7 linked regions of the Homo sapiens genome follow. The protein of the gene in region 7 interacts with the protein of the main gene of each other region in a pairwise test. Each region holds a gene or a part of one and is shown on either strand. Other genes may lie near its edges.

Region 1 (3,171 bases), on a different chromosome or scaffold from region 7:
CCAAGTCGATACCAAGTGGAAAGCAAAACTTTGTTCTCCTATTGCCAAAAGATGCTTTTCTGACATTAGAAAAACAACATAATTAGAAAATACAAAAAAAAAAATTTTTTTTTTTTTGACACGGAGTCTCGCTCTGTTGCCCAGGCTAGAGTGCAGTGGCGCGATCTCGGCTCACTGCAAGCTCCGCCTCCCAGGTTCATACCATTCTCCTGCCTCAGTCTCCCAAGTAGCTAGGACTACAGGTGCCCGCCACCACGCCCAGCTAATTTTTTGTATTTTTAGTAGAGATGGGGTTTCACTGTGTTAGCCAGGATGGTCTCCATTTCCTGACCTCGTGATCCCCCGCCTCGGCCTTCCAAAGTGCTGGGATTACAGGCGTGAGCCACTGCGCCCGGCCTGAAAATACAAATGTTAAAGCTTTTAAAATACTTTTATTAATTTTAGGAGTTAAGAAGTTTCCATTATTTTGCTCCAAACCAGAAGACTCTGTTCCCTGTATATAGAATAGGAGTAATATTTGAAAACAACTGGCTGATGTTTAAAACTGAAGATTGTCATGATTGTTTATCCTAATCCCAATGCTGAAGTAAGATTGTCTTGGAAATACTAAGTTGGGTAAGTATTTTTTAAAGGTTTATGTTGAGTGGTGAGAAAATACTAACAGAAAAAGATGGGAAAATTTTAAAAGTGCACTTTCAGATCAGCAGGGGAACTATGTTACCTCAGTCTCATGCTATTTTGAGGCTAATAATTCAGGAATTTCAGTAATTTGTGGCTAATTAAGTTTAGGTTTGAGGCAGTTTTCAAACAACAGTGAGTTACATTTGAAATTTGTTTTAATTATAAATTCAGAATTCTCAAAAAGCATATTTAATTTAAAATGTGCCTAGTTACAGTACTACTGTGATTGTCAATTATGCCTTATTATTTATTACATTGTTTCTGTAGGAAAGTGAATTCTGCATTTAAATTTCAGGGAACCAGTCAGAAGCATCTGGATTAGGCATTTAGTGATACAAGGATCCAGAATAACAAAAACTATGTACCAGCCACATTCACACAACAGGTGATACCCCTATAGGTTAATTATTCTCTAGATATTCTAAATTAAGAGACACAGAATACTTAGTCTTATGTGAGTCAAGAGCTCTATTCTGTCTTCACTACTGGGTGTCTACTGTTATAAACTGGAGAATATGTGTGGTTAAATGCCATGTTTTTCATTTTTAATTGATCTTTTTCTTATTGCTGTGGTTCTTTGCCTTTTTAGGATTTCTTGTAAAAACCTCAAAATGGTTATAAAGAGTATCACAGATGTGGTGTTATGGTTAGTGTGTACTTTGAAAGTAATGAATGTTTTTATGTAATTAAATATCTTTCTGCCAAAATTACCTACTTAGTGTTATATTTTTAAACTAATGAGTAGTCATTAAATATTCTATTTTTTAACACTAGAATTTGGTACTTAAAAGCATGAAGTCTGGAATCAAATCAACCTAAGATTCCAGCTCTGGCACTTTACTAACACCTAACCACTTCAAGATCCAGCTTATATATCTTTAAGATGAGGATAATAATGATTCCTACTTAATAGGGTTGTGACAATTAAATGGTATGATATTGCAAAGTTTTTAGGTCAGTGCCTGACATATAATGACTCTCAAAATTATTATTATTATCTGTTTACACACATTAATTATATCCTTTTCTGGATATTCTATATAGTTATTTTTTATAAATAATGTTTATTCTTACCATCAGTTGACCAGCTTATTCTTTCCTTTTCTCTTGAGATTTATAATTAATCACCTTCATTATATTCTAATGAAAACAGAGACATAAGTAATTGTCACACCACAAACAGTATGATTACTCAGGTGTATTCAAATTATTTGGCACCCCAGAGCTAAACTATCTAGAGCAGCTATAAATAAACATGTGAAAACTCTTAACCAAGTTACTTCTAGTTTGGAAGAATTAAATTGGCCTCCAGTTCTCAGGTAATTTGTTTAGAATATCATATAGAGTGTCAGCAATCATTTACTTATAATATTGATATTTAGAAATTGATTTTAAGCTAAATACTTTTTTAATTTTTTTGATTTCCACCTTTTAAGTTCAGGGGTACATGTGCAGGATGTGTAGATTTGTTACATAGGTAAGTGTGTGCCCTGATGGTTTGCTGCACAGATCATCACATCACCTAGGTATTGAGCCCAGCATCCACTAGCTGTTTTCCTGATGCTCTGCCTCCTCCCACCCCCACCCTCTGACAGGTCCCAGGGTATGTTATTCCCTTCCACGTGTTCTCATGATTCAGCTCCCACTTATAAGTGAGAACACATGGTGTTTGGTTTTTCTTGTTGTTGTTCCTGTGTTAGTTTGCTGAGGATAATGGCTTCCAGATCCATCCATGTCCCTGTAAAGGACATCATCTCATTCCTTTTTATAGCTGCATAATATTCCATGGTGTATAAGTACCTCATTTTCTTTATCCAGTCTGTCATTGATGGGCATTTAGGTTGATCCCATGTCTTTGCTATTGTGAACAGTGCTGCAGTGAACATACGCTTGCATGTATCTTTATAATAGAATGATTTACATTCCTTTGGGTATATACCCAGTAATGGGATTACTGGGTCAAGTGGTATTTCTGCCTCTACGTCTTTGAGGAATCACCACACTGTCTTCCACGATGGTTGAACTAATTTAATTTACACTCCTACCAACAGTGTAAAAGTGTTCCTTTTTCTCCACAACCTTGCCAGCATCTGTTATTTTTTGGCTTTTTAATAATAGCCATTCTGACTAGTATAAGATGGTATCTCGTTGTGGCTTTAGTTTGCATTTCTCTAATGATCAGTGATGTTGAGCTTTTTTTTCATATATTTCTTGGGCACATGTATTGTCTTCTTTCCAGAATTGTCTGTTTGTGTCTTTGCCCACTTCTTAATGGGGCTGTTTGTTTTTTCTTGTAAATTTGTTTAAGTTCCTTATCAAGGAACTACATGATTCTTATCAAAAAGGATTTTGGACAGATTTTATGGGCAGAGTCTTTAACTATTTGGGAGCTAAAGGTGTAAGAGAAGATAAAATGAAAAGAGCAGTGACATCGATGCCTTTCACTTCAGGGATGGTGGAACTTTTCAACTTTATAATAGTTGCTGGATA
Region 2 (4,301 bases), on a different chromosome or scaffold from region 7:
TTCCAGCAAAGTGGTCCCAAATCTCCCTTGCAGATATTTACTGTTGGTTGCTCTGTGCTGGGTTCTGGACTGGACTGTGGAAGAGGCAGAAACAAAGAGAACCCTGTTTCCTGCCCTCTGGATGGTTTCGGGGGAAGTTGGGGGTCCCCGCAGATCTTGGGACATGGCAGGATTTGAACTGGCCCTTGAAGAATGGGGAGGATCTGAGCAGGACCTGGAGCCTAGAGAATAAACCAGAGAACAGAAGGGCTCAGGGTGGGGGGCAGAGGGTATAAAGGGCCTGGAAGTTTGGGCTTTCTCCTAAGTGACAGGAGCGTAGGCAAAGTTGTCTGAACAAGAGGTTACACGGTCTGGCGCAGTTCCCTGGGCACATGGCTGTTTCACCTATGGAGTGCCAGCCACCCCACTGCCAGGGAGGCTGTGGGTGAGAGGCATTTGGACACGTGTGAGTATCCAGGAAAGAGGTCAGGAGGCCGGGCACAGTGGCTCATGCCTGTAATCCCAGTGCTTTGGGAGGCCAAGGTGGATCTCTTAAGGCTAGGAATTTGAGATGAGCCTGGGCAACATAGCAAGACCCCATTTCTACAAAAAAAAAAATAAAAACATTAGACAGGTGTGGTAGTGCACACCTGTAGTCCCAGCTACTTGGGAGGCCGAGGTGGGAGGATCGCTTGAGTCCAGGAGTTGGGGGCTGTAGTGAGCTGTGATGGTGTCTAGCCTGAGTGACTGAGCGACACCTTGTCTCGAAGAAAGAAAGAAAGACGTTGGGGATGTTGATAAAGATTTTTTGAAATGTTTTATTTTGATATAATTCTAAATTTACAGAAAAGTTGGAAGAATAGTACAAAGAAATCCCCTATATCTTTTTACCCAGATTCACCAATTATTGACATTTTGTCCCACTGGCTTTTTCATCATCTTTCTTTTTTTTTGAGCCGGAGTCTCGCTCTGTCGCCCAGGCTGGAGTGCAGTGGCGCGATCTCAGCTCACTGCAAGCTCCACCTCCTGGGTTCACGCCATTCTCCTGCCTCAACCTCCCGAGTAGCTGGGACTACAGGCGCCCACCACCACGCCCGGCTAATTTTTTGTATTTTTTAGTAGAGACGGGGTTTCACCGTGTTAGCCAGGATGGTCTGGATCTCCTGACCTCGTGATCCGCCCGCCTCGGCCTCCCAAAGTGCTGGGATTACAGGTGTGAGCCACCACGCCCAGCCAGAAATTAATCATTGATAAGACTTATATATCGGTCAGGCATGGTGGCTCATGCCTGTAATTCCAGCCCTTTGGGAGGCCAAGGTAGGTGGATCACCTGAGGTCAGGAGTTTGAGACCAGCCTGGCCAACGTGGTGAAACCCCGTCTCTACTAAAAAATACAAAAATTAGCCGGGCATGGTGGCGGGCACCTGTAATTCCAGCTACTTGGGAGGCCGAGGCAGGTGGATCACCTGAGGTCAGGAGTTTGAGACCAGCCTGGCCAACGTGGTGAAACCCCGTCTCTACTAAAAAATACAAAAATTAGCCGGGCATGGTGGCAGGCACCTGTAATTCCAGCTACTTGGGAGGCTGAGGCAGAAGAATCGTTCGAACCCAGGAGGCAGAGGTTGCAGTGAGCTAAGATCGTGCTATTGCACTCTAGCCTGGGCGACAGAGTGAGACTCTGTCTGAAAAAAAAAAGACATACATAATCCACAGACCTTATTTAAATGTTATCAGTTGTCCTGATACTGTACTTCATAACTTCTTCTTTTTCTGGTCCCGGAATCCAATCGAGGACCACTTGCTGCATTCACCTTCTTGTCTGTGGTATCCTTTCATCTGGAAGAGGGCCTTGGCCTGCCGTTGTCTTTCCTGATCTTGACATTTTGGAAGACAACCAGCCTGTTATTTTGTAGAATGTTGTCAGTTTGCATTTGTCTGGTGTTCCCTGGTTGGATTCAGATGATGCATCTGGGGCAGGAATATGTAGGTAGAGATCGAGAATCACTCATATAAGCGAGAAAGTGGATACCAGAAGAGGTGGCGTTCCGGAGCAGAAGGTAGAGAGAGCACACGCTGGAGTCCAGGGCGCGGGGAGGCCCAGGGGTGTTTGGGAGCCCAGAGGAGTTGTTGCAGTGGCGGTGGATGAGGGCGTGAGAGGACAGGGCCTCTGTGTGGGCAGGGGCTGTTTGCAATATCAGGAAGAAGGTGGATTATGAGGAGAAGGGATGACTCCTTGAAGCCCGAGCTGGTTTAGTGAGCAGAAGTTCCATATATACCATCATTCCTGGGGTGCGTCTGTGGCACGGGAGCGGCCCGTGTGACCCTCTGGATGAAGGAGGTTTTGTACCTGTTGAGTTGGAAACGTACCTGGTTAGAGTCTTTCCCAAGGAAATCCAGAACCCCTGGAGGGTGGAGGCCTTGTTCTGGCCGCCCCTGTGTCCTCAGCACTCAGCACGGGGCCCAGCATCGGGCAAGTACCGCGGAGTGTTTGTCGAGTGAGTGCATGACAGAGGAAAGAGGTTCCCTGCAGGCCTCTCCTGCAGCCCGCTGGAGCTGGGTGGGCAGAGGTGGCTGTGCCTGTTGGGGACTGATGTGAGCATGTTTCTTTCCAGGCCTTGGATGTATGGGCCACTGGCGTCACGTTGTACTGCTTTGTCTATGGGAAGGTGAGTGCCAGGGATGCCAGCAGAGCTGGGGCGGGTCCAGTGAGGCGGGCACGGGCGACGGATGCAGGCTCTTCCTTTTTGTCCTTAAGTGGCTTTTGAAAGAGCCCACCTGGCTCAGAGAAGGCTGAGAGAGAAGAGGCTTTTTCTATCTTTCTCTGGTCCCCTGCGGAGCGATTCTCGCGAAGGAGTCGCAGGACAGCAGACACCTAAGGGGAGGTGCCGACGATGGTGTTGCCACCGCCCCAGCCAGAGTGCTCCCCGTCCCTCTGTCCCTTGACGCCATTCACTTATTGAGCCATGTGTTCACTCCCTTGCTCATTTATTCGACAAATTGTCCTTCACCCCTACCCTGGCTGAGGCTGGACCCTGGGGACACCCAACGCTGACGTATCGGTGATCCCTGCCCGCAGGTGTGCCTGCTCTGGTGACCACACTAAGGGGCAGGGGGGAATTTCAGTGAACATGTTCCCAAGCCCCAGGCCCTGGGAGTGGAGGCCTGGCCACAGGTGGCGGTAATGGTGGTGGGTGCACCCAGCCTGGCCTGGCCTGGCCGCGGGTGGCAGTAACGGCGGTGGATGCACCCAGCCTCATTGTTCCCTCAGCAACTCATTCATTCAGTCAACATTTGTTGAACATTTACAGTGTGAGTTGAGGTCCTTCTCATGTAATGGGAGCCCAGACCTGCCCCCTACCCCTGCCCCCACCAAGGGAGGGGGGTTGATCCCCTGGCACAGGTCGAGGCCCTGGACCCACATCCTTTGTCTGCCTCTCCACCCCACAGTGCCCATTCATCGACGATTTCATCCTGGCCCTCCACAGGAAGATCAAGAATGAGCCCGTGGTGTTTCCTGAGGAGTGAGTTGTCCACCCAGGGGAACAAGGGGGCTACCACCCGCTCCTGGTGTCTGAGTTTTAGCAGAGCTTTTGCCCTCTGAGGACCCCACCCCAGCCTGCAGATATGAAGGTGGCGGTGCTGTTCCCTGGGAGGGACCCCTGAATAGATGGACGGGAGGGACTCTGGAGCCAAGGGTCTCCGCAACGTCACTGTGTGGATGGGAACCCTGAGATCCAGGGTTGGCCAGGGATGACCACAGGCATCATTCACACCACTCCTTCACCGCAGGCCTGCCTGGGGTCAGTGGCGCCAGCCCCACCCAGCCCCTGGACTCAAGGGGAACTTCTCCTTCCCCCACTCAGGGTCAGGGAACTTCAAGATGCCAGTGCGTGCTCCCCATTTCACAGATGGAAAAGAGGATGCTCTGGAGGAGAGCGGTCAGGGGGCTGGGACTCAAGCCACTCTTCCTCCCCACTCTTCCCATTGTGACCGAGGTCTCTGAGCGTAGCAGGGACGTCGGGGAGGCCTCTTGCTCATGCATGGTTCGCCTCATGACGGCCACCGTGGCAGCCACAGCCTGAGCTCCCAGGCTCCTCTTTTCAGCAGTGGATTTCAGGAGTGAAATGGAGGCCGGGTGCGGTGGCTCACGCCTGTAATCCCAGCACTTTGGGAGGCTGAGGTGGGCAGATCACCTGAGGTTAGGAGTTAGAGACCAGCCTGGCCAACATGGTGAAACCCCATCTCTACTAAAAATACAAAAATTAGCCAGGCGTGGTGGCGCACATCTGTAGTCCCAGCTACTCGGGAGGCTGAAGCACGAG
Region 3 (4,301 bases), on a different chromosome or scaffold from region 7:
AGCTCTGAATTAAATATTGAACTAACATTTGAAATGCAAGGATAAAAATTTAAACAATTTTTGAATTTGGAATTGTATTTATAAAGCATCTCTTCATCATGATTTTAGCCTGAAGTTTTCATATAAATAGTAATATAAAATGTATGAAAGAGGGGTTATCATTTACATTTGATTAGAATTTGCAAAAAACTATTTTCATAAAACTTATTCTGTTTCTATCCTCTGTTTTACATGAAATTATTATGGTCATTTTTTTCATCAAAAAATATTTGCATTCTTTCATATATCTTTATGACCATAGAGATAACAAAATAAGTTACGACTACTTGGCCTAATGGAATGAAAATAATAATAAACATTTACTGAGTGAATGTTTTGTTCTTGGCACCGTGCTTAAAAATTAAACCCTTTACATATACTAACTCCTTTAATTACCTTATAATTTTAGTATGTAGATGACATTATTCCTTTTTTTTTGAGACAGGGTCTCGCTCTGACATCCAGGCTGGAGTGCAGTGGAGCAAGCACAGCTCAGTGCAGCCTCAACCTCCCAGGCTCAAGCAATCCTCCCACCTCAGCCTTTCAAGTAGCTAGGACTACAGTCGTGAGTCATGAGGCCCAGCTAATTTTTTACATTTTTTTAGAGATGAGGTCTCCCTGTGTTCCCCAGGCTGGTCTTGAATTCCTGGGCTCAAGTGATCCTGTAGCCTTGGCCTCTCAAAGCACTGGGATTAGCCATGCATAAGCATGAGCCGCTGTGCCTGGCCTGACATTATTCTTATAAATGAGGAATTTAAAAATTCATATAAGAGAAGCATCTTGTAAAGATACAATTTTTTTTTTTTTTTTTTTTGGAGATGGAGCCTCTCACTGTCGCCCGGGCTAGAGTGCAGTGGCGAGATCTCAGCTCACTGCAACCTCCACCTCCCAAGTTCAAGCGATTCTCCTGCCTCAGCCTCCCAAGCAGCTGGGATTACACGTGCCTGCCACCACGCCCGGCTAATTTTTTGTACTTTTTGTAGAGACGGGGTTTCACTATGTTGGCCAGGCTGGTCTCAAACTTCTGACTTCGTGATCCACCCGCCTCGGCCTCCTGGGATTACAGGCATGAGCCACCACGCCTGGCCCAAAAAATGTTATTTAACTGATCTGAAACTTAAACATGTTTGTTTAACACCAACATATGTGATTCTGAACCACGCATACTATGCTGCTTATTCACAATAGCAACGACATGGAATCAACCTAAATGCCCATCAACAGTAGCCTGGATAAGGAAAATGTGGTGCATATACACCATGGACTACTGTGCAGCCATAAAAATAAACAAGATCATGTCCTTTGCAGGAACATGGATGGAGCTAGAGGCCATTATCCTTAGCAAACTAACACAGGAACAGAAAACCAAATACTGCATGTTCTCACTTATAAATGGGAGCTAAATAATGAGAACACATGGACACATAGAGGGGAAGAGCAGATTCTGGGGCCTTCTAGAGGGTGGAGGGTGGGAGGAGGGAGAGGATCAGGGAAAATAGCTAATGAGTACTAGGCTTAGTACCTGGGTGACGAAATAATCTGTACAACAAACCCCCATGACACGAGTTTACCTGTTTACCTATGTAACCAGTACATGTACCCTTGAACTTAAAAATTAAAAAAAAAAAATTCATTTGTTAAGGTTTTAAATTTTATAGTATTAAGTTTATTATTTTGATTTTGGTTTTTGATTTTGATACTTTATGCTATATGGTCCTATTTACATGTTGATCTTTGTGACAGGTATTTTAACAATGGACTTAAAGAGCCTGTGGATCCTAATATGAGAAATTATAAGTACAGTAGGGGTCACCTCTGGGATGTGTGACATCAGTTGGTAACCTCAAAGTGAAACTGGAGTTTAGGGTGAAATAGGGCATAGAGTGGTGGGAAGTTGACCAAATTGTAGCCCTTCCTTTTGATTCAGTGTATTTAAGGATCCTTGTCAGAATGGAGTCCTTTTGGCTATAAGGAGAAGATCCAGACCTGGGACATGACTAATTAGAATCACAGTGTCTTCATTTTTGAAAACTTTTCCTTCCCCATTTGAAACTAGACCATTTTATAATTAGTAATTGGTACGTTAATAGTGCAAAAGATATTCAAACTGCACAGTATTTTTTGGTATTTTTTATTATTTCATGTACAAAATTCAGAAGGTACAGAAGGGTATACACTAAGGGTCTTTTTCCCCAGAGACAGCCACTGGTACCAATTTTCTTTGTTACCATCTATTTTCTTCCAGATATAATTTACACACACATGCATTCTTTTTAGCAGTCCCATATAAAGGCAGTTGCTATACACACGGTACTGAGCCTTGAGGTTTTTCACTTAACAGTATATCATGGAGATTATTTCATGTCTGTATATTGTGAATTTCCTTATTCATTTTTATAGCTGCACAGTACTCTGTTATAAAGGTATACCATAATTTATTTAGCCAAACCTAAATAAATCTAACTTACTTACATTGTTTCAGTCTTACTTGTAAGAACAGTGCTACAGGGAATAATAGGCAAGTCATTTTGTACATAAAGATGTGCATTTGGTATCTGTGCAGGATAAATTGTTAAATAAGGGGTTGCTGTGTCAGTTTGCGCATTTATAACTTTGACAGCAGGTGCTGAATATCCCCCCATAAAGGCTGTATGCTCCCACTAACAATATAGGAGAGTTTATATTAGCAAATTGCTCAATCTTGTTGAAGCTTTAACTTTCATTTCCCTTCTTATCAGTGAGGTTGAGCATAGTTTCATGTGCTAGGAACTCATTTGTATTTTCTTTCCCAATACACTTTTTAAATTCTGGGTTTGGTATAACTACTTAAGGTTTAACTTTTTTTTTTTTTTTTTTTTTTTTGAGACGGAGCCTCCCTCTGTCATCCAGGCTGGAGTACGGTGGCACGATCTCGGCTCACTGCAATCTCCACCTCCCGGGTTCAAGCGATTCTCCTGCCTCAGCCTCCTGAGTAGCTGGGATTACAAGCACACGCTAATTTTTGTATTTTTAGTAGAGACAAGGTTTCACCATGCTGGTCAGGCTGTTCTCGAACTCCTGACCTCGTGGCCTGTCCGCCTTGGCCTCCCAAAGTGCTGGGATTACAGGCGTGAGCCACCGCGCCCAGCCAGGTTTAACATTTTTGAAGCTGTTCTCTGAAGATACTTATGGCAAGACTAGACATAATATAGAAGTTAATATTACAAGCTCTGGAGTCTCAGGTTTATTTCTTGGCTTTGCCGCTTGTAACACCTTAGGCAACTTACATGTGTTAAGTCAGATAAAGCATATGAAAGCACAGTGCCTAGCACATAAGAGCACAAGAATGTTAGCTATTATTAGTGTGCCTGGTGCGTGCTAATAATAACTGACATTATTAGCTATTATATGTTAGTTAACTATGGTAACTCTAGTTATTATATATAGTTAACTTTGTTCCATAAATGCTTTATTTGTAGTATAATTATAATTATGTAAAAATACTAATTTTTTATTAGCAATAAAAATGAAGTATGCCAAAATATTAATTGTAATTAATACCAGTTAAGTAACTGGTGCCAGGAGAATTTTGAGTAATTTGTGTTAATTATTTTTAATGTCTAATTTTTTTGTAATGGAAATATGTTTTATAATAGAAAAATATGGTAGACATTGTTGTGAAATGATTTTTGTTAAATACACCTCCCCTCTTTTTTCATTACAGACAGAGAGTGCATGGGCTGAAGAATACTCTGAAAAGAAGAAAGGGTCTCACAAGCGCTCAGCATCTTGGGGCAGTACAGATCAACTTAAGGAGGTCAGAAAAATGGTTCTAAGATAGTGGGTGTGGAAATATGATCCTTTTGTTGGCTATTTCCTTGATATTATGGGCAGCAAGGATTTGTCGTTTTCCATTGATTTCTTTTTTCTTTTTGGCTTCTGAAATAACAAAAACAATTATTGTGTTGATTTAATAAAGATTTCAATAGGGATATTTATATATCACTTACCTGATTATGTATGTTTGTCTTTTTTTAGGAGAATTCATACCTGTCTATTAACATCAGATTTAAAAATTGTAACAATACAACAAATTCACATTTATTCTTTTTTTTTTTTTTTTGGGGTGTGCATGTGTGTGTGTGAGACGGAGTCTCGCTCTGTTGCCCAGGCTGGAGTGCAGTGGTGCGATCTTGGCTCACTGCAGGCTCTGCCTCCCAGGCTCAAGCAATTCTCGTGCCTCAGCCTCCCAAGTACCTGGGACTGCAGGTGTATGCCATCAT
Region 4 (4,444 bases), on a different chromosome or scaffold from region 7:
ACTAAAATTAGCCAGGTATGGTGGCATGCGCCTGTAATCCCAGCTACTCGGGAGGCTGAGGCAGGAGAATTGCTTGAACCCAGGAGGTGGAGGCTGCAGTGAGCCAAGATTGCACCACTGCACTCCAGCCTGGGCGATAGAGTGAGACTCTGTCTCAAAAAAAAAAAAGAAAAAAAAATTAAACTGTCTTGAGTACTAAATATTGGTGTGGAGAACATCCTGGATCTTTGCCAATTCTGCATCTTCGCAGGAGCCAAGGATATTGCAGAATTTGCTATTTACATCCCCTCTGCTGCTTGTGTAAGATGAGGAAACAACAATAGCAGACATAATTGCTGAGGTTGGGAGGGGGAGCTGAGCTAACAATAGGCAAAAGATGAAGGGAAGAGAGGATAATGGTGGCAGCTATAGGATTCCAATGGTGAATTGTGGCTACTTAAAAAAATCAGGATATAAAGCCTTACCTATTGTGGGATACCAACTAGCTCTCAGGATACCTCAGGCTAAAATGCAAGATTTAGATCCTCAAAACCTGGGTTCAAATCCTACTTTTCTACCTCTAGGTATGTGATTAGGTTAACAAACTTTCTTCTGCCTCCATTTCTACGTCTGTAAATAGCAATAATAGTAGTATGTATCTGCTTTTTTAAATTATCGTGAAGAAGTGCGTGGAAAGTGCATAGCATCACGCCTGACACTTTTCAATTATTCAATATTGGCTTATGATTGACAATATTTAATATTTGGGAGGAAATCCACACACATATAAGACAGACTTAAGGAAAACTTTTATTTTCTTCTTCACACTTTTCCGTTATTTTCCAATTTTCTAAAATGAGTATGCATTGCTATTAAAACCAAAAGGAGGGAAACTCACAAATTTCTGAACAATAGAAGTTTGACTGTTCCACTGTTTCCGGAATTTCCCGGAACATGTTGTTCAAGAAGGACGTGGGAGTGCATGCTGAAGCACAGATTGCTAGGTCTCGACCCGTAAATACTGGATAAAAATCTTTAAGAAATAATTCTGGTAATCTATACTTTTAATCAGCTCCACAGATGACTGTTATAATCGGGCACTGCTGGGACGTGTTGATTGAATGGGAAGTGAGCAGAGAGTGGGCGGGGAAGGCCTGGCGGGGAAGGCCTGGCGGGTTGCAGCGATCACGAGGCCTGCGCCTACAGTTCCCATATTACCCCGCGAAATCGCGACGAGCAAGCACGAACCCTGCCGGGAGTTGTAGTTTCTCTCGGCTAGGCCGCTGCCTATAAAGAACGCCGGAGATGGCCACAGAAAACTTCCCGCCCCACAATGCAAAGGTCAACGTTGACGCCATCTGGGGTGCGCCTGGAATCGAGCAGGCCGTTTCTGCCGCGTCCACCACAACCTCTGCTGTATCAGAGGGGGCCTTCGCCGCCGCCGCCCCCACCACCGCCCCTGCCGCCATCGCCACCTCCGCCGCTGCCGCCTTGGGGCCCTCCTCCTTCACCGCCCCCTTCACCACCTCTACACGTTCTAGGCCTTCTGTCCTGGAGAAGAAGCTATAGTCGTTCTCCCTTGTGGGCCCGGGGCGCAGCCATGGCGGACGGCGGCGGCGGCGGGGGAACTGGCGCGGTGGGCGGCGGCGGAACTAGCCAGGCCTCTGCCGGGGCAGCGACTGGCGCTACTGGGGCCAGCGGGGGCGGTGGCCCCATCAACCCGGCCTCGCTGCCTCCCGGCGACCCGCAGCTCATCGCTCTCATCGTGGAGCAGCTCAAGAGCCGGGGCCTTTTTGACAGCTTCCGCCGGGACTGCCTGGCCGACGTGGACACCAAGGTAGCTGCGGCCGCCTGGGCGTTGGGGAGCGGGGCTGCACGTGAGGCCGCCGGGTGGCAGCTTTGATTTTCGAAAGCCGAGAGCAAAACAAAAGATAGCTTAGAAATCTCAGCGGTGAGGTCTTACACCGCTTGGGGCAGTACGGAGAGCTTTCTGAGCGATGCACACGTGGGTTCCTGCCTGATACATTTACTACTAGTTGTGATTTTACCCAGTCCCTTCTCCGAACTTGGGGTTTCAATGTGGGTTTTAGAGCCTAGACCGTATCATTCCCAAGATGGAACTCCTCTGAGGCCCTTAATAACAAACTTCGAAACCAAGTAGATAAGCAAGCGTGCTTTAGAATTTCCACCTGTTCCGTACTCACCACTGAGAAGCTGGCATTAAACACAATGATTTGAACACACAGTCATCACCATTTTATAGCTGTTTATTCCTTTTCTCTAGCTCATTGTTTTGCAGACTAGTACGGCGTTGAATTAAGATAAATTGTAGAAACAGCACCCTTATTTTGCACTTCATCATTGATAAAAGGAGATTTGGTGCCTAGTTGAGATCCTAATGCCATTGGTCAGTCCCACCAGTAAAACGCTATTTCACTTTACCTACTCGTCAGGGTGGTTTGGATTCAATGAAATAATGGGTGTTAAGTATCAGACATACAGTAGTTGCTGGAATGTTCATTTTCTTCCTTTTCAAAACTTGTCTAGCCACGACTGTGGTTGTAGGTTAGGAGACCCTGTCACTGGACTCCTGCAGGGTAGTGATTTCTCCTACCAGAGCCTGTCATGGAAACATTTTGCTTACCTCACAGCAAGATTGTGAGCTTAGAATTAGACCTTAAGATAGGGAAAAACGTAGTCTGTTTATTCGTTGAACGTTTATTGGCCTCTAGTTGCCAAGCTGTGCGATTACAGGAATAAGTCACTACCCCATCCTCAAAACTTATAGTCTAGGTTAGAAAACTGACATGTAAATAAACCAGGTGGTAAATACGGATGTAGAGAGAGAAAGTGGTATACACTGTTCCTTCTCCAAGATGAAAAGCCCAACTAGAAGTCTGTCCTTGAAACAAAGTAATTTAATACATATACATCCCAGATCTGTATTGACAGAGCTTTCACCTTTCCTAGGACAAGTTCTCCATTCATATTTCTTATATTCCGTTAGGTTTTGTGTGTGATTTTAAAACAAAAGCGACTACAGTAGCCCGCCCCATCCAAGGTTTTGCTTTCTGCGGTTTCATTTACCCAATTGTTGCGGTATGGAAGTACTTGTGTTCAGGTAACCCCTATTTTACTTCATAATGGCCCTCAAAGACATTCATGCGTAGTGTATATAGGGTTCAGTACTACCTGAGGTTTCAGGCACCCACTGGGGATCTTGGAACGTATCCCCTGAGGGGGGAGGGGACTACCCTCTTGAGCGGCTGGTGAGGGAGAGTGGTTGGAACCTTCCCATGTACAGCTCCTTAGCTGTTCCTTCTGAGAATTCCAGGTTGTTTTAGTTCTTGAAGATAGTGTTTTTTCAGGCATATCTTATCTGAGACCTTTGTTGCTTCAGCCCAGTGGTTCTCAAAGCGTGGTGCTTGGATTAACATCAGCATCACCTGAGAACTTGTTAGAAATGCACATTTTGGGCCCCACCCCAGACTGCTGAAGTATTTAGGGGAAATTGAACAGATGTCTGTAATTTACTTTGCACTGTAATTTACTTTGAACTGATAAGTGAACAGGTGGAGGGGTTGGTAGTACAGTAAAACGTTATGAGTGGGCTCATGAGTTCCTTTGACTTCTTGAACTGAGATGATTCTGTATCGCCTGGGTTTGTTACGTGTTTTGGTGGTGATGTTCACTGTCCTTTGTCCTTTTTCGGTAAACAGTTCGTATCATCTCAAACCAGGTGCGTTATTTTGAGTAGACGGTATGGCATCAGGATTTATGCTTACAAGGGACAAAAATAATCCTAACTGCTTTATGCAAAGGGGAGAATCTATTGTCTTACGGAATCCAGGGAAGGATTGAACGAACAAACTCTCCCAGAGGGTGGTAGGCGTGCGTTTGGAACCAGATATTCCCCATTCGTTCTGTCTTTCATCTCTGTTGATATCTGTTTTACTGTTGGTTCAGAGTGGAGTCATCCATTTGGTTACTAGTATCTCTTGATTACATTTTACAGCTTCTTCCTCTAGAGAGAGGCTGTCAGCTCCAATCTGGGAAATCCCAGGGAATGTCTGCATTGTCTTAGCGTGGCTCAGGCACCCACTCCTGTGGCACCCTCTGCCCTACCCTTGTGAAGAGAGGAAGACAGTTACTAGAAAGAAGGCGTTACTAGGCAGATAGCACATGGTATCTGTGAATTTTACTCCTCTGCCCCCATTTCCTTGCCTTTCTCTTTTCCAGGTTTAGTGGAGTCTTTGAGTTTGCTCTCTCAACCTTTTGGAAGAGGCCAGTCATGGAATTGAGGCCTGCTGGTTCCTTTGTCAACTTCATTTCCCTGACTGTTAGCAAACTTTGCCGCAGTAATGCTGCATAGCAAACTGAATCTCAGCAGCTTATAACCAGCACTTGTTCACATGTTCATGGGGCGGCAGGTCTACCAAAGTTCAGCTGAGCTAGGAAGGCTTCA
Region 5 (4,301 bases), on a different chromosome or scaffold from region 7:
AGCCAGGAAGTTCCTGACAGTCATTTGAAATATCTTTGCTTTTCTCTGCTGAATCTCATCTTTAGTTATGAGACCACCTCTCTAGTTAAAATACATAAAGTTTCTTAAGCTTTTCTAGGGGCAGGGTGATTGTAAAGTAGCATACCTGTCGTTTGTAAAGTAGCATACCTGTCGTGTGTAGTGGCCATTGGTGCTTTCATGCTTATTTTGACAGGAGACCTGTAACAACTCAGAATAGGTTTGCAAGAGAAAAACTGGTATTATCTCTTCCTAAAGGGAAATCATTTTCTTCTCTGGTAGATTTTGCAAATGATCTCATATTCACTAAACCTCTATTTGCCTGGTCTCAAAATGGATGTGTACTAAAAGCAGAACATTGCTAGCCCAAAGCTACATTTTCTTTAACTACCTTCTATAAACAGGCCTAACGTCTAGACCTTTTTGCACAAAGTTGTAGTCACAAAGTCAAGCCCCTTCTCCGTAATAAACACATTTAATTATATTAACATTTGTGTTGCTTTGTGGTTTTCAGAGTGCCTCCATCTGTATTTTTTTTATTTTGGGCACAAGGTGGACAGAGAGGTGGGCAGAGTGAATTTATCCTATTTTGTGGATGATGAAACAGGCACAGAGAGCATAAGTGATTTGTCCAAGTTTGTGTTGCCAATAAATAGTAGAGCTGCAAGGAGAACCTAGTTTCCTGAGGCCTAGTTTAATCTTTTCCACTAAACCATGTTGTAGAAAATACACCATAACTAAAACCATGTTTGTTATAGTGCCATACTTTTCTGTGTGTGTGTGTGTTTTGTTTTTTTGTTTGTTTGTTTTTTGAGACAGAGTTTTGCTCATTGCCCAGGTTGGAGTGCAGTGGTGTGATCTTGGCTCACCTCTGCCTCCTGGGTTCAAGCGATTCTCCTGCCTCAGCCTCCCAAGTAGCTGGGATACAGGTATGCGCCACCACGCCCGGCTAATTTTGTATTTTTAGTAGAGATGGGGTTTCTCCGTGTTGGTCAGGCTGGTCTTGAACTCGTGACCTCAGGTGATCTGCCCGCCTCAACCTCCCAAAGTGCTGGGATTACAGGTGTGAACCACCGTGTCCAGCCTTCTGTGTTTTTCAGTTGCAGATGCACACACTCCCCCCATGATAAATCTCTCTACCAAATTGAAGGACTTGTGTATTTTCTGTACTACATTTTATAGTGCTTAGGAGTGTCCTTGATACACACTTTTCATTTTAGAGGAAAAAGTGAGGGACCTGACGTTTATCTGTGATGACTATGACTATCGTTATGCTAGATACATTATGTCATTTAATCCTCATAACAGCTCTGAGTGACACCACTGTCCCACCCTCTTATTCCTCTTGAGGAATCTGAGCTTCAGACATCTTTTTTTTTTTTTCTTGAGACAGAGTCTTGCTCTGTCTCCCAGGCTGGAGTGCAATGGCACAATCACGGCTCACTGCAACCTCCACCTCCCAGGTTCAAGCGATTCTCCTGCTTCAGGCTCCAGAGTAGCTGGGATTACAGGTGCCTGCCACCACGCCCAGCTAATTTTTTTTTTTTTTAAGTAGAGATGGGGTTTTGCCATGTTGGCCAGGCTGGTCTCGAACTCCTGACCTCAGGTGATCCTCCCGCCTTGGCCTCCCAAAGTGCTGGGATTACAGGTGTGAGCCACCAGGCCTGGCCTGAGCTTCAGACATTAAGTGACTTCCCTATGTTCATGCAGTAAGTGACAGAATCAGGATTCAAACCCAGGTTCGTCTGACTCTACTAACTATTCCAAACAGTGAACCTCAAGTTGAGTTTAAAGACCACAGATAGAAGAGTCAGGTGAACCTGGAGGTATTAACTACTAACTCTCCCAAACAGTAAGCCTCAAGTAGAGTTTAAAGACCACAGATAGAAGTCAATACCTTGTTTGATATGTTATTGATACATTTCACTGTTAGCTCCTAAGAATACAATAATAAGATACAGTAACTTAAAACATTAAATTACCAAGGTTATGAGACAGGATATAGGAGGGAAAATAGAATTTTTTCTTCAGTAACAAGTTCCTTCCAAATAGTGGTGAGAAACTATTTTAATCCCTTTTATTGCTCATAGTCTGTAACTAATAAATGTTGTACTTAGTTTGGGACTTCTACATCAAGACAGTAAATAAGGTGTAATCATCATAGGGCCTCTACTTCTATTATAAACTGAAAAACTATTGAAGTTGGATCCAGGATCAGTGTTCAGACTTTGATGTTACCACCAAATGAACACAAGATACTAGAGGAGAGAGACCCTAGGATCAGGTCAAGCCCTGATCCCTCCATTGGCCAAGGACTTCAAGGCCATATCAATCTATAGGGATTAAAAGATGGTGCCATTGGCTCCTTAAAAAGCTTTGTAATTTCACCAGGCAATGACTGTCTCCAATGACTGCAAATTAGAGTTTTATTGGAATCTTTGCACAAGAGAATGGGCTATACCTTTTCTCACTCAGGCAAGACCTTTGATAGGTCATTTGCCCTTCTCAGGAAGCCAACTCATTCCTTTGGTACTTAAAAGGCAGGGCCAGTGAGCTAACAGTTACTGAATTAACTGCAGGTCAGGACAGTAGGCTCACCTGACTGGAGAAAGCAGGGCAAGGTCAGGGAGCCACGTGATCCTGACACTGCTGACAACATGGTTGCAATTTTCAGGAAGTTGTCTCTTTACACCGTTTTCCTCAAATTTTTTCCAAGATGAATGGGTTTTTTTTTTAAGAGACTAACCTTCACCTTGCAAGAGAATTATCTTCTGTGCAATTTCTTGGAAGCCAGCATGATTCTTTTCATTGTTCTTTAATGATCATTTGGATATTTTTACATCCACAGCAACTTTTACCACACTTGCTAAACCTGTTGTCGGTGTTTAATTTCTTCTTTATCTTGATGAACCAAACCAAGACTAGAGAACTATCAGTAGTAGAGATTACCTGTCATAAAACATGGAGAAAACCATGTACAGGAGAAATGTGATTAAGGAGCATAAGCCCTCTTTTTTTTGTTTTTGAGGCAGAGTCTTGCTCTGTTGCCCAGGCTGGAGTGCAGTGTAGCGATCTCTGCTCACTGCAAGCTCCGCCTCCTGGGTTCACGCCATTCTCCTGCCTCAGTCTCCCGTGTAGCTGGGACTACAAGCGCCCGCCACCACGCCCGGCTAATTTTTTCTGTTTTTTAGTAGAGACGGGGTTTTACAGTGTTAGCCAGGATGGTCTCAATCTCCTGACGTCGTGATCCACCCACCTCAGCCTCCCAAAGTGCTGGGATTACAGGCGTGAGCCACCGCGCCCGGCCTGCATAAGCCCTCTTTTCTGGTTCTGCTTAAGTTATTCATGCACTGAACATAAATAGGAAATGTTTGCTGGCCAATAATAGCGATAGGGTGATAGAACAGGCATGTTGACTGTGGGCAAGTCACAATCATAAAAGGAGAAAGTCACGCTTTTAGCTGACATGTTTAGCAGATGATAGAATATGTAAAAGAGGCCAGGCGCAGTGGTTCATGCCTATAATCCCAGCAGTTTGGGAGGCTGGGGCGGGCAGAACACATGAGGTCAGGAGTTCAAGACCAGCCTGGCCAAAGTGGCGAAACCCCGTCTCTACTAAATAACAAAAATTAGCCTGGCGTGATGGCGTGTGCCTGTAATCCCAGCTACTCGGGAGGCTGAGGCAGGAGAATCACTCGAACCCAGGAGGTAGAGGTTGCAGTGAGCCAAGATCATGCCACTGCACTCCAGCCTGGGCGAGAGAGTGAGACTGTGTCAAAAACAAAAAGATGATGTAAGAGACTCACTTCATGAAGCACATGCGCATCAATCACCTGGCCAGGGTACTCAGCAGACCAAAAAACAAGTAGACGCCCTGATTTTCAGGGGTCCCTTGGCCTTTTGAAAAACATTTTTTCAACCTGTAATTGATTTGACTTTCAACACTTAGCTGCAGTCCAATGCAGAAATCTTTAATGCACCTGTTTAGAATATGCTCTTCCTGAGGCTTAGCCGTGGATCCTTCGGCACTGGATGTTAGGGAAGGGGGTACGTTTCGGTAAACAATGACAGTGACTTCTGTTTGGAACCATAGTTTCTTTGTTGGAACGAAGCTCAACTCATATAAGGAGTTTGGAACCCCCTGCCGGACTTACAACCTCCAACTTCTCTCTAATGAGGCTCTTGGGAGCTGTACAAAAAGGTGAGGCTGGAGTTTGACTGTTGTCTTCTGTTGCAGGTTCTGGGCATTTGGAAAAGTTTCTCTTCGGGCTGTTAAGCAAGGC
Region 6 (4,001 bases), on a different chromosome or scaffold from region 7:
CATTAAAATAAATGAAGATAAAAGAATGCATCATTCATTGTTGAAATAATTATACGAGTGTTTGTAACCTTGCAATATAAAATGTGTTTATGTTGGTCATTGTCAAACTTTGAAAGCTATTTGCTTTGCTGCAGCCAAATACTAATTAATAATGCCCCAAACCTTGCTTAAGTTGCATCATTATTAAACAGGGAGAAAGATTTATGAACAAAGATTTAGACTTAATATATTGAAACATTTGGACAATGAAAGATTATCAAGACACCAGCTGGGTAAATCATGACATATCCATCCTTTCAGGTGATTTGTTCAAGGTAGTATTCCCTTATCTTCAGTATTTTTAGGGTTTGCAATGAAGGTCCAGAGGTTAGTTAATAGCTTCCTTAGAGTTCTTGTAGATTCAGTGGAGTTCTTAGGAACAATTAGTGTACCATAACATACTGTAACATCACAGAGAAATCAGATTTGAGGCTTGTTCTGCTGTGACAGCCTTGGGCAAGTTATTTAACCCCTCTTTGGCTGTTTACTCATCCATAAAATGGAGCTAATAGTGCATGTATCATAAGGTTGCTGTGAGGAGGAAATACAGTAATAAGTGCAAAGTGCTCAGCACATTGGTTGGACTCCCTATGAGTAGAGTTCATTCCAGGTTAAGTTTTGCTTTTACATTATTAAATATCTTTGTGCCTTAATTTCTTCATCAGCTCACAGTTCAGCTAATATTATTAGATGCTTCTTTGGGGGACAATAAAAACTTCTCTAGTAACTTCATAGGCATTTCAAACAGTTCAAATCAGAAAATAATATGAAAAGCACAGTACAAATTTATGATAGTATTAATTCTCATAGTAGCAATAATAGGAAATCTGTTTGTGTTGTATATGAGTTAATAACGATATGTTCAAATGGGTGGACTCAGTAGTTGATTCAGGTGGAGAGAAATAGATCCTTTCAGTTTTTTTTTTAAAGTGCCAATGTCTTTTCCTGTTTTAGGGCCTTTGCAGTTACTCCTTTTGTCTGGAATATTCTCCCCTATCCTTACCCCTTCTTATGTCTGTCCATCTAGTACAGCTGAAATGACAACATTGTAGAAAGGCCTTTCCTGACCATGTAGTCTGAATAGCTCTCAGTTTCTTTTAAAAATCACTTTAAAAAAAAAATCATAGCATTGATTAGTACTAGATTTCAATTTTGTTTTCTCTTTCCTTCTCTCCAACTAGAATGTAAACCCTGAAGAGCAGGGACCTTGCCTGTATTGTTTAATTTATTATTTTTTAAAATTTTTATCTGTTGTCACATACTCAAGTATGATCGCCTGTGGTGTTTATTTTTACTTTTCCTGCACCTAGATCCTAAGTGCCTGACAAATACTTGTGGAATGCTTGAATATAATGTAAAGTATGAAAAAATGATCCATAATTATACTTTCCAGAGATAAATTACCATTGTTGATAGTATAGTATATATTTTTTAACTTTATGTTGTGTGTGTGCTTACAGATACAGATGTCTATGATTATGCTTTTGAAATATGTATTCCATTGAGTCTAAAGATAAACATTTTTTACTATATGTATTTGAAATTGGTCTTATAATCAACGGTATGCTGTGGTTTAATTGGCAACATTTTTCTCTTTATGAGTTGCACATAAATATGTCTTAAAATCTATAGCACCTTAGATGTGATGAAATGTGGTATTTATTTGAAATAAAAATGAGATCAGGAAGTTCATCTCTTTTCCCCACCTAAAGATCTTGAGCATTTCCCTTGTCACTGGTTTTAGATCTGTCTTATTCTCAAGATATATGATTAAGGGTGTGTCATAACTTTTTCAATCAGTTCCTCTTGATGGCTATTTGGAGCTTTTCCAATTGTTTTCCTGTTATAAACAATGCTGTGCTGATTATCCTTGTATATATCTCTATGCACGTGAGTGAAATTTATTTAATTAGATTGGTGAATACACATATTCTCTGTAGTGTACAAGGGTACCTATTTCCCTATACCTTTATGAGTACTGAATCTTAGTAAATTTAAAAATTTTTATTAATCTAAGTGAAAAATATACTAATGTTTAATATAATTTCTTTAATTATGATAGAGATTGAAACCTCTTTTCCTGTTTATTAGCCGTTTTTATTTCCTTTTCTGTGATGTACTTGTGCATAGGATAGTAGGCTTTTAATTGGCTGGCATATTAGTCCTAATTAGAAACCTTTCCAGTTTGGAACCATGCATTATCCTATTAATTCTTGGGAACAACTTTTAGGCCTGCTACATCCTACTTTTGTGGAGGACAAGAGGGCTTTATAAGGACCCAAGATTTGCAGGGAGACAGAATTCAGAAATAACCAGAATTCTAGTGTCCTTTATAATGAAGGCCAAGAAGGGCTATAGTGTCAGTTTTTGAGCTGAATACTGGAACTTACATACTATGCTGTTAGTCTTTAAACTTTAAATGGTCTTCTTCTCAAGGCTTGTTGTTCTTTAATATGACTTGGTTATAGTATAGTAGTATTAGTTTAGTAGGTTTGAAATAGGATACAACTCTGGGACTTGAGTGAAGTCAATATTGGACTTAGAGATTAAATGTTTAGATTAATAGGGTGTTTTGCACATTGTTAAAATGTTATTAACATTTTTTAGTACCTTTTCTGTGTCAAACCGTATCAGTTTCAAACAAAACTATCAGATGATCTCTGCTTTTTAGGTTCTGCATGGTCTCTGGAGGAACAGATTTCAGTCCTTTGGTAAAAGTGAAGCTAGAATATACATGGAATATGGATAGCTCACAGGAAGGGTTTTAGTCTAGCATGGGAGTTTAAAGGAGGCTTCCTGGAGGAGACACGATTACCTAAACTAAGTCTCGAAGGATGAATATGAGTTAGCTGCAGTAGTAAGTAGTAAAAGGAACAACAGTGAAATGGACTACAAGTAGTAGAGTGTTCTTAGAATATGACATTTGAGGTGAAGACTGACTTATGGTGAGGTTGGAGTGACAAGAACCAAGTAATGAAAGGCCGTGAACACCCTGTATTTAATAGGTTAAGGGATCATTTTGAGCAATGATGGGGTCAAATTAGGGTTTTAGAGATCACTGCCCAAAGATTGATTTGGGGGCAAGATTGAAGGCCAGGACACATGTTGGGAAACAGTTCTAGTAATCCAGGTGAGAGAATTAAGGCTGTAGCTCAGTGGTAATAGCTTACTTGGAAAATTGTAGTCATTTTTCTTAGTTTATGTAACATTTTGTTCCCTATTGTTCAGAATCCCATTGAGATTACATTTCATTGAATGGGGTTTATTATTTTGCAGAGATAAGTTATGTTAATTATCCAATCGTCTTTCATTCAATTATGTCTGTAGGAAGTTTATACTTTTACAAATACCTGCTTAACTAGTATGGTGCTACGTGGAGATGATAAATAAGTGTTTTTCATCATTTTAAAAATTGAGAAATGTTAGCCCTTTTGATGTGCTTAGTGATTATCTTAGAGGGAAAGAATTTTAGAACATTTTGCCTTTGTGTAAAAGCAATGATTTGTTAGCTTAATTTATATATAATTAACTTATAGGAATTTATAATTTATATGTGCTAATTTCTTTTTCTTTTTTTTAAAAGGCTATTAGTGAAAGATGGTGGATCGCTTGGCAAACAGTGAAGCAAATACTAGACGTATAAGTATAGTGGAAAACTGTTTTGGAGCAGCTGGTCAACCTTTAACTATACCTGGACGAGTTCTTATTGGAGAAGGAGTATTGACTAAGTTGTGCAGGAAAAAGCCCAAAGCAAGGCAGTTTTTCTTGTTTAATGATATTCTTGTATATGGCAATATTGTCATCCAGAAGAAAAAATATAACAAACAACATATTATTCCCCTGGAAAATGTCACTATTGATTCCATCAAAGATGAGGGAGACTTAAGGAATGGATGGCTAATCAAGACACCAACTAAATCTTTTGCAGTTTATGCTGCCACTGCTACGGAGAAATCAGAATG
Region 7 (4,055 bases):
GCCTTCACCTGAGGGAAGAAGGGGTCAGGAGCCAAGGCCACACTATGCCCCGATCCCAGACCTCCTGCTTGACTTTCCACCTGCCTCCCCTTGCCCTGGCTTCCTGCCCTCACCAAACAGGGACACGGGCGGGCCCAGGCTGCCTGCCAGATGGGCCATCCATCAGTCATAAGGACAAAAAGGAGGGCAGGGCGCGGTCACTCACGCCTGTAATCTCAGCCCTTTGGGAGGCCAAGGTGGGTGGATCACCTGAGGTCAGGAGTTTGAGAACAGCCTGGCCAACATGGTGAAATCTCGTCTCTACTAAAATTACCAAAATTAGCTGGGCATGGTGGCGGGCACCTGTAATCCCAGCTACTTGGGAGGCTGAGGCAGGAGTATTGCTTGAAGCCAGGAGGCGGAGGGTGCCGTGAGCCAATATCGCGCCACTGCACTCCAGCCTGGGCGACAGAGTGAGACTCTTTCTCAAAAAAAAAAAAAAAAAAAAAAAAAAAAAAAAAGAAAGAAAAAAAAAAAAAAGAAATTCTTCAACCCTGATGACTTTTTGTGGGTTTCTATTTCCCTCCTCCCCTTTACTCTCACTTAAACAGGGTCAAGGTTGACAGTCTGTCTCAGGAAAAAAAAAAAAAAAAAAGGATTTAGGGCAGGTCTGGAGAAGATGGGGTACCTTTGGGGCCCTCAGAGAGCACAGTGGGTTCTACCCTTAGGGCCTCCCATACCCCAATTACCTTGCTAGGCTTGGTGGGGGCCACAGCTTCCAGAGGAAAGGGGCTGCCAGGCACGGGCACGCCGTCATAGGTCACCTCCACCTCATAGGGCCCTTCCTCACGGGGCAGGAAGCGCACCACACTGTTGTCAGCCCCCAGGCCTGGCTCCACCTTGCAGGGCACCGCTGCACCCGAGGGGCCCACAATCTTGGATGCCACTTTGCCTTGACCACCAGCACCCTTTGATTTGACTGTGAACTCCTGGTCTTTGCCAACGTCCACCTCTGTGGAAACGATGAAAGGAAGGAGAGAGACATGACACCCAGCTCAGCCAATCCCTGGATGTGACAAAGGCCTTTGCGACAAGGGCCCCAACTACTTACTCTCTCCCAGGCCAGACACCTTGATCTTGCTGAGGTCCAGGCTTGGAGATACTGCCACTGAGAAAGGGCTCTTAGGGATGGGATCCCCTCCATAAGTGACATTGACGCCTACTGGACCCTGGGAAGGGTGCAGAAGGGAAGGGGGTATTTAGAGACACCAGAATTGCTCCCCAACCCCCTCCTGGACCTCCATGCCTGTCCTCTCCCAGGTAAGGAATGAGAGTGGGCAGAAAGTCCCTCGGAGCTGTCCCCTAGGCTGCTGCATGAGGAGGCTGGGGACTCGGTGACTGTAGTGGAGGGTGTGGCTACCTGCTGGACAGGCGTGTACTTGACTGTGTAGGTGTTGTCATGGTGGTCGATGATGTCCACATCTCGCACTGCATCCCCCTTGGTGAGTCCTGAGAACTGGACGTCCAGCTTGCCTTTGCCAGCAGCTTTGGCATTTACTGTGAAGTGGGTGGGCTTGCCAAGCTCGACACCTGAGGAACACACAGGGACCATGTAGGGGCACCCTGCCCCAAGCCCTCCTACCCTTGATGCCCCGCAACCTGCCATGGGGTACCTGTCCTCACCAGTGCGACTGAGGCCAGGGCCCTCGGCCTTCACCTTACTGGCGTCATGAGAGGGCTCCACCTTGACTCGGATGGGGCTGGTGGGCGTGGCCTGCAGGCAGTGGGAGGAGAAGGCCTTAGAGGAGGGCAGACGTCATCCGCAATGACATCTTAGCGGCCAGGAGCGCAGCACCCACCTGGTCAGCAAAGAGGACCATAATGGTGTAGCTGCCAGCCCCCCGGGGCGTGTACTTGACCGTGAAGGTGTCATTGTCATTGCGGATGATGTCGAAGTCGATGTCAGCTTCGGCGGGGCCTACCACTCCAGGGGCACACTTGATGCCGATGCTGACGTCCCCTGCGGCGGGGAGAGGAGCGGAGGCTGAGACCTCGCAGGGACACCCCAGCCACCTGCCCTCCCACCCACAGCCAGGCCTTACCCTGGCCAGCCTCGGCGCAGTCCACAGTGAAGTAGGTGGGCTCGTGGGCCTTGAGCCCTGTCTTGGCTACTCCGGGGCCGTATACTTTGACCTTGTTGGGGTGGCTGCCAGCTCCCACATTCACCTGCAGGGCACAGGGGCAAGGGCAAGGGCATGAGCAGCCTGGAGGAGACTCAGAAGCTCCCTCAGCTACACTGGCAGGCACACAAAATGGTCCAGCTGCCTTGGGAAGAGTCTGGCAGTTCCTCAGTTGACCACAGAGGGACTGTGTGATGCTCCGGTTCACTCCGAGGCAACTACCCAAGAGAAATGAAAGCAAATGTCCACGCAAACACCTGGACTCACTGTTAACAGCACTGTTCATGATCACCAAAGGCAAGCTCATCCTCAATATCTGTTAGCAAGTGAACGGAAAAATGGAATGTGGTCTGGCCACACAATGGAGTATTATGCGGCCATAAAAATAAATGAAGCGGCCGGACGTGGTGGCTCATGCCTGTAATCCCAGCACTTTGGAAGGCCAAGGTGGGCGGACCACCTGGGGTCAGGCGGTTGAGACCAGTCTGACCAACATGGAGAAACCCCGTCTCTACTAAAAATACAAAATTAGCTGGGAATGGTGGCGTATGCCTGCAATCCCAGCTACTCAGGAGGCTGAGGCAGGAGAGAATTGCTTGAATCTGGCAGGCAGAGGTTGCAGTGAGCTGAGATCACGTCATTGCACTCCAGCCTGGCAATAAGAGCAAAACTCCGGCTCAAAAAAAAAAAACCAGGATGGGCGCGGTGGCTCATGCCTGTCATCCCAGCACTTTGGGAGGCCGAGGTGGGCAGATCACAAGGTCAGGAGATCGACACCATCCTGGCTAACACAGTGAAACCTTGTCTCTACTAAAAATACAAAAAATTAGCCGGGGGGGTGGCGGGCGCCTGTAGTCCCAGCTACCCGGGAGGCTGAGGCAAGACAATGGTGTGAACCTGGGAGAAAGAGCCTGCAGTGAGCCGAGATCGCGCCATTGCACTCCAGCCTGGGCGACAGTGTGAGACTCCATCTCAAATAAATAAATAAATAAACAAAATAATTATAAAGGAACAAAGTGCCAAGACATGCCAAACATGAACGAAAACACGGAAAACTTCGTGGTGAGCGAAAGAAGCCAGACACAAAAGGCCACATGGCACACAGTTCCATCTATAGAACATGTCCAGGATAGGCAAAGCCACAGCAGAAAGCAGGTTAGTGGTCACCAGGAGCTGTGGGACAGGGGAGTCAGGATGGTGTGCCACAACCACTTGAAATGGACGAATCGTGTGCTACGTGAATGCTATCGAGATGGACTAAAGGCCGGTGGAGGTTGGCTCACCCTGAAGGGGCTGTTGGGGATGCTGACGCCTCCCCAGGACACCATGGCTGTGTGCTTCACCGGCTTCCTGGGCACGTAGGAGCAGCTGTAAGTGCCATTGCCGTTGTCCTTGACCAACGCCTCCACAGGGCAGCCTTCATTGTCCTGTCAGGCAGATAGGAGCAGGTGGCCTGCTGGTCAGTGCCCAGGCCTGGGTGCCCACACCTGCCCTGCCCCCAACACCCGTGGGTGCTCTACCTGGACTTGGACCCGAAGTGGGGCCTTGCCACCGTGCTTGGCATCCACTGTGAACTCTGCTGGCTTGTTGACGGCCACACCTGTCTTCTCCAATCCAGGCCCACGTGCCTTCACCTAGCGGGAGACCACCCAGCTGTCAGGGGGCCAGGTCCAGGCTGCCAGAGCTACAACCCAGGCAGGGTGGCCAGGGACACAGAGTGCCATCCCCACCAGACCCCAAGCAGGAGCAGCAGGGCGAGACTTAGGCCATCACAGCCTGCTCTTTACCCTGTCTGGGTGGAAGTCCTGGGGCGCGTCACGGATGTCAGCCATGAAGGGGCTGAGGCGGATGTCTTCGCTGTTGCACAGCACGTGAACGGCATACTCGCCAGCCTCC

What was found.
Region 1: the proteins of FLNA (region 7) and PHOSPHO2 interact in binary tests that used the Homo sapiens proteins (3 or more experiments, as listed by UniProt).
Region 2: the proteins of FLNA (region 7) and CAMKK1 interact in binary tests that used the Homo sapiens proteins (3 or more experiments, as listed by UniProt).
Region 3: the proteins of FLNA (region 7) and FAM117B interact in binary tests that used the Homo sapiens proteins (3 or more experiments, as listed by UniProt).
Region 4: the proteins of FLNA (region 7) and BOD1 interact in binary tests that used the Homo sapiens proteins (3 or more experiments, as listed by UniProt).
Region 5: the proteins of FLNA (region 7) and MTNAP1 interact in binary tests that used the Homo sapiens proteins (3 or more experiments, as listed by UniProt).
Region 6: the proteins of FLNA (region 7) and PLEKHF2 interact in binary tests that used the Homo sapiens proteins (3 or more experiments, as listed by UniProt).

What each region holds. Positions count from the first base shown.
Region 1 is NC_000002.12:169,696,917-169,700,087, forward strand, and holds part of PHOSPHO2 (pyridoxal phosphate phosphatase PHOSPHO2), read left to right. Parts: intron 1-444; 5' UTR 445-615; intron 616-948; exon of another isoform or gene 949-1,066; intron 1,067-3,171. UniProt on the Homo sapiens protein: Phosphatase that has high activity toward pyridoxal 5'-phosphate (PLP).
Region 2 is NC_000017.11:3,871,753-3,876,053, reverse strand, and holds part of CAMKK1 (calcium/calmodulin-dependent protein kinase kinase 1), read left to right. Parts: intron 1-2,591; coding exon 2,592-2,645; intron 2,646-3,426; coding exon 3,427-3,500; intron 3,501-4,301. UniProt on the Homo sapiens protein: Calcium/calmodulin-dependent protein kinase that belongs to a proposed calcium-triggered signaling cascade involved in a number of cellular processes. Phosphorylates CAMK1, CAMK1D, CAMK1G and CAMK4. Involved in regulating cell apoptosis.
Region 3 is NC_000002.12:202,721,175-202,725,475, forward strand, and holds part of FAM117B (protein FAM117B), read left to right. Parts: intron 1-3,742; coding exon 3,743-3,835; intron 3,836-4,301.
Region 4 is NC_000005.10:173,613,572-173,618,015, reverse strand, and holds the start of BOD1 (biorientation of chromosomes in cell division protein 1), read left to right. Parts: upstream 1-1,365; 5' UTR 1,366-1,579; coding exon 1,580-1,816; intron 1,817-4,444. UniProt on the Homo sapiens protein: Required for proper chromosome biorientation through the detection or correction of syntelic attachments in mitotic spindles.
Region 5 is NC_000017.11:73,238,133-73,242,433, forward strand, and holds part of MTNAP1 (mitochondrial nucleoid-associated protein 1), read left to right. Parts: exon of another isoform or gene 1-506; intron 507-3,968; exon of another isoform or gene 3,969-4,111; coding exon 4,112-4,219; exon of another isoform or gene 4,220-4,290; coding exon of another isoform or gene 4,291-4,300; intron 4,301-4,301. Other genes in the region: CPSF4L (putative cleavage and polyadenylation specificity factor subunit 4-like protein), read right to left, coding at 4,291-4,300. UniProt on the Homo sapiens protein: Critical regulator of mitochondrial DNA (mtDNA) abundance. Binds dsDNA throughout the mitochondrial genome without sequence specificity and controls mtDNA copy number by promoting its replication.
Region 6 is NC_000008.11:95,150,409-95,154,409, forward strand, and holds part of PLEKHF2 (pleckstrin homology domain-containing family F member 2), read left to right. Parts: intron 1-3,622; 5' UTR 3,623-3,636; coding exon 3,637-4,001. UniProt on the Homo sapiens protein: May play a role in early endosome fusion upstream of RAB5, hence regulating receptor trafficking and fluid-phase transport. Enhances cellular sensitivity to TNF-induced apoptosis.
Region 7 is NC_000023.11:154,360,580-154,364,634, forward strand, and holds part of FLNA (filamin-A), read right to left. Parts: coding exon 3,947-4,055; intron 3,794-3,946; coding exon 3,680-3,793; intron 3,587-3,679; coding exon 3,443-3,586; intron 2,206-3,442; coding exon 2,082-2,205; intron 2,000-2,081; coding exon 1,839-1,999; intron 1,754-1,838; coding exon 1,663-1,753; intron 1,570-1,662; coding exon 1,400-1,569; intron 1,209-1,399; coding exon 1,091-1,208; intron 992-1,090; coding exon 729-991; intron 9-728; coding exon 1-8. UniProt on the Homo sapiens protein: Promotes orthogonal branching of actin filaments and links actin filaments to membrane glycoproteins. Anchors various transmembrane proteins to the actin cytoskeleton and serves as a scaffold for a wide range of cytoplasmic signaling proteins.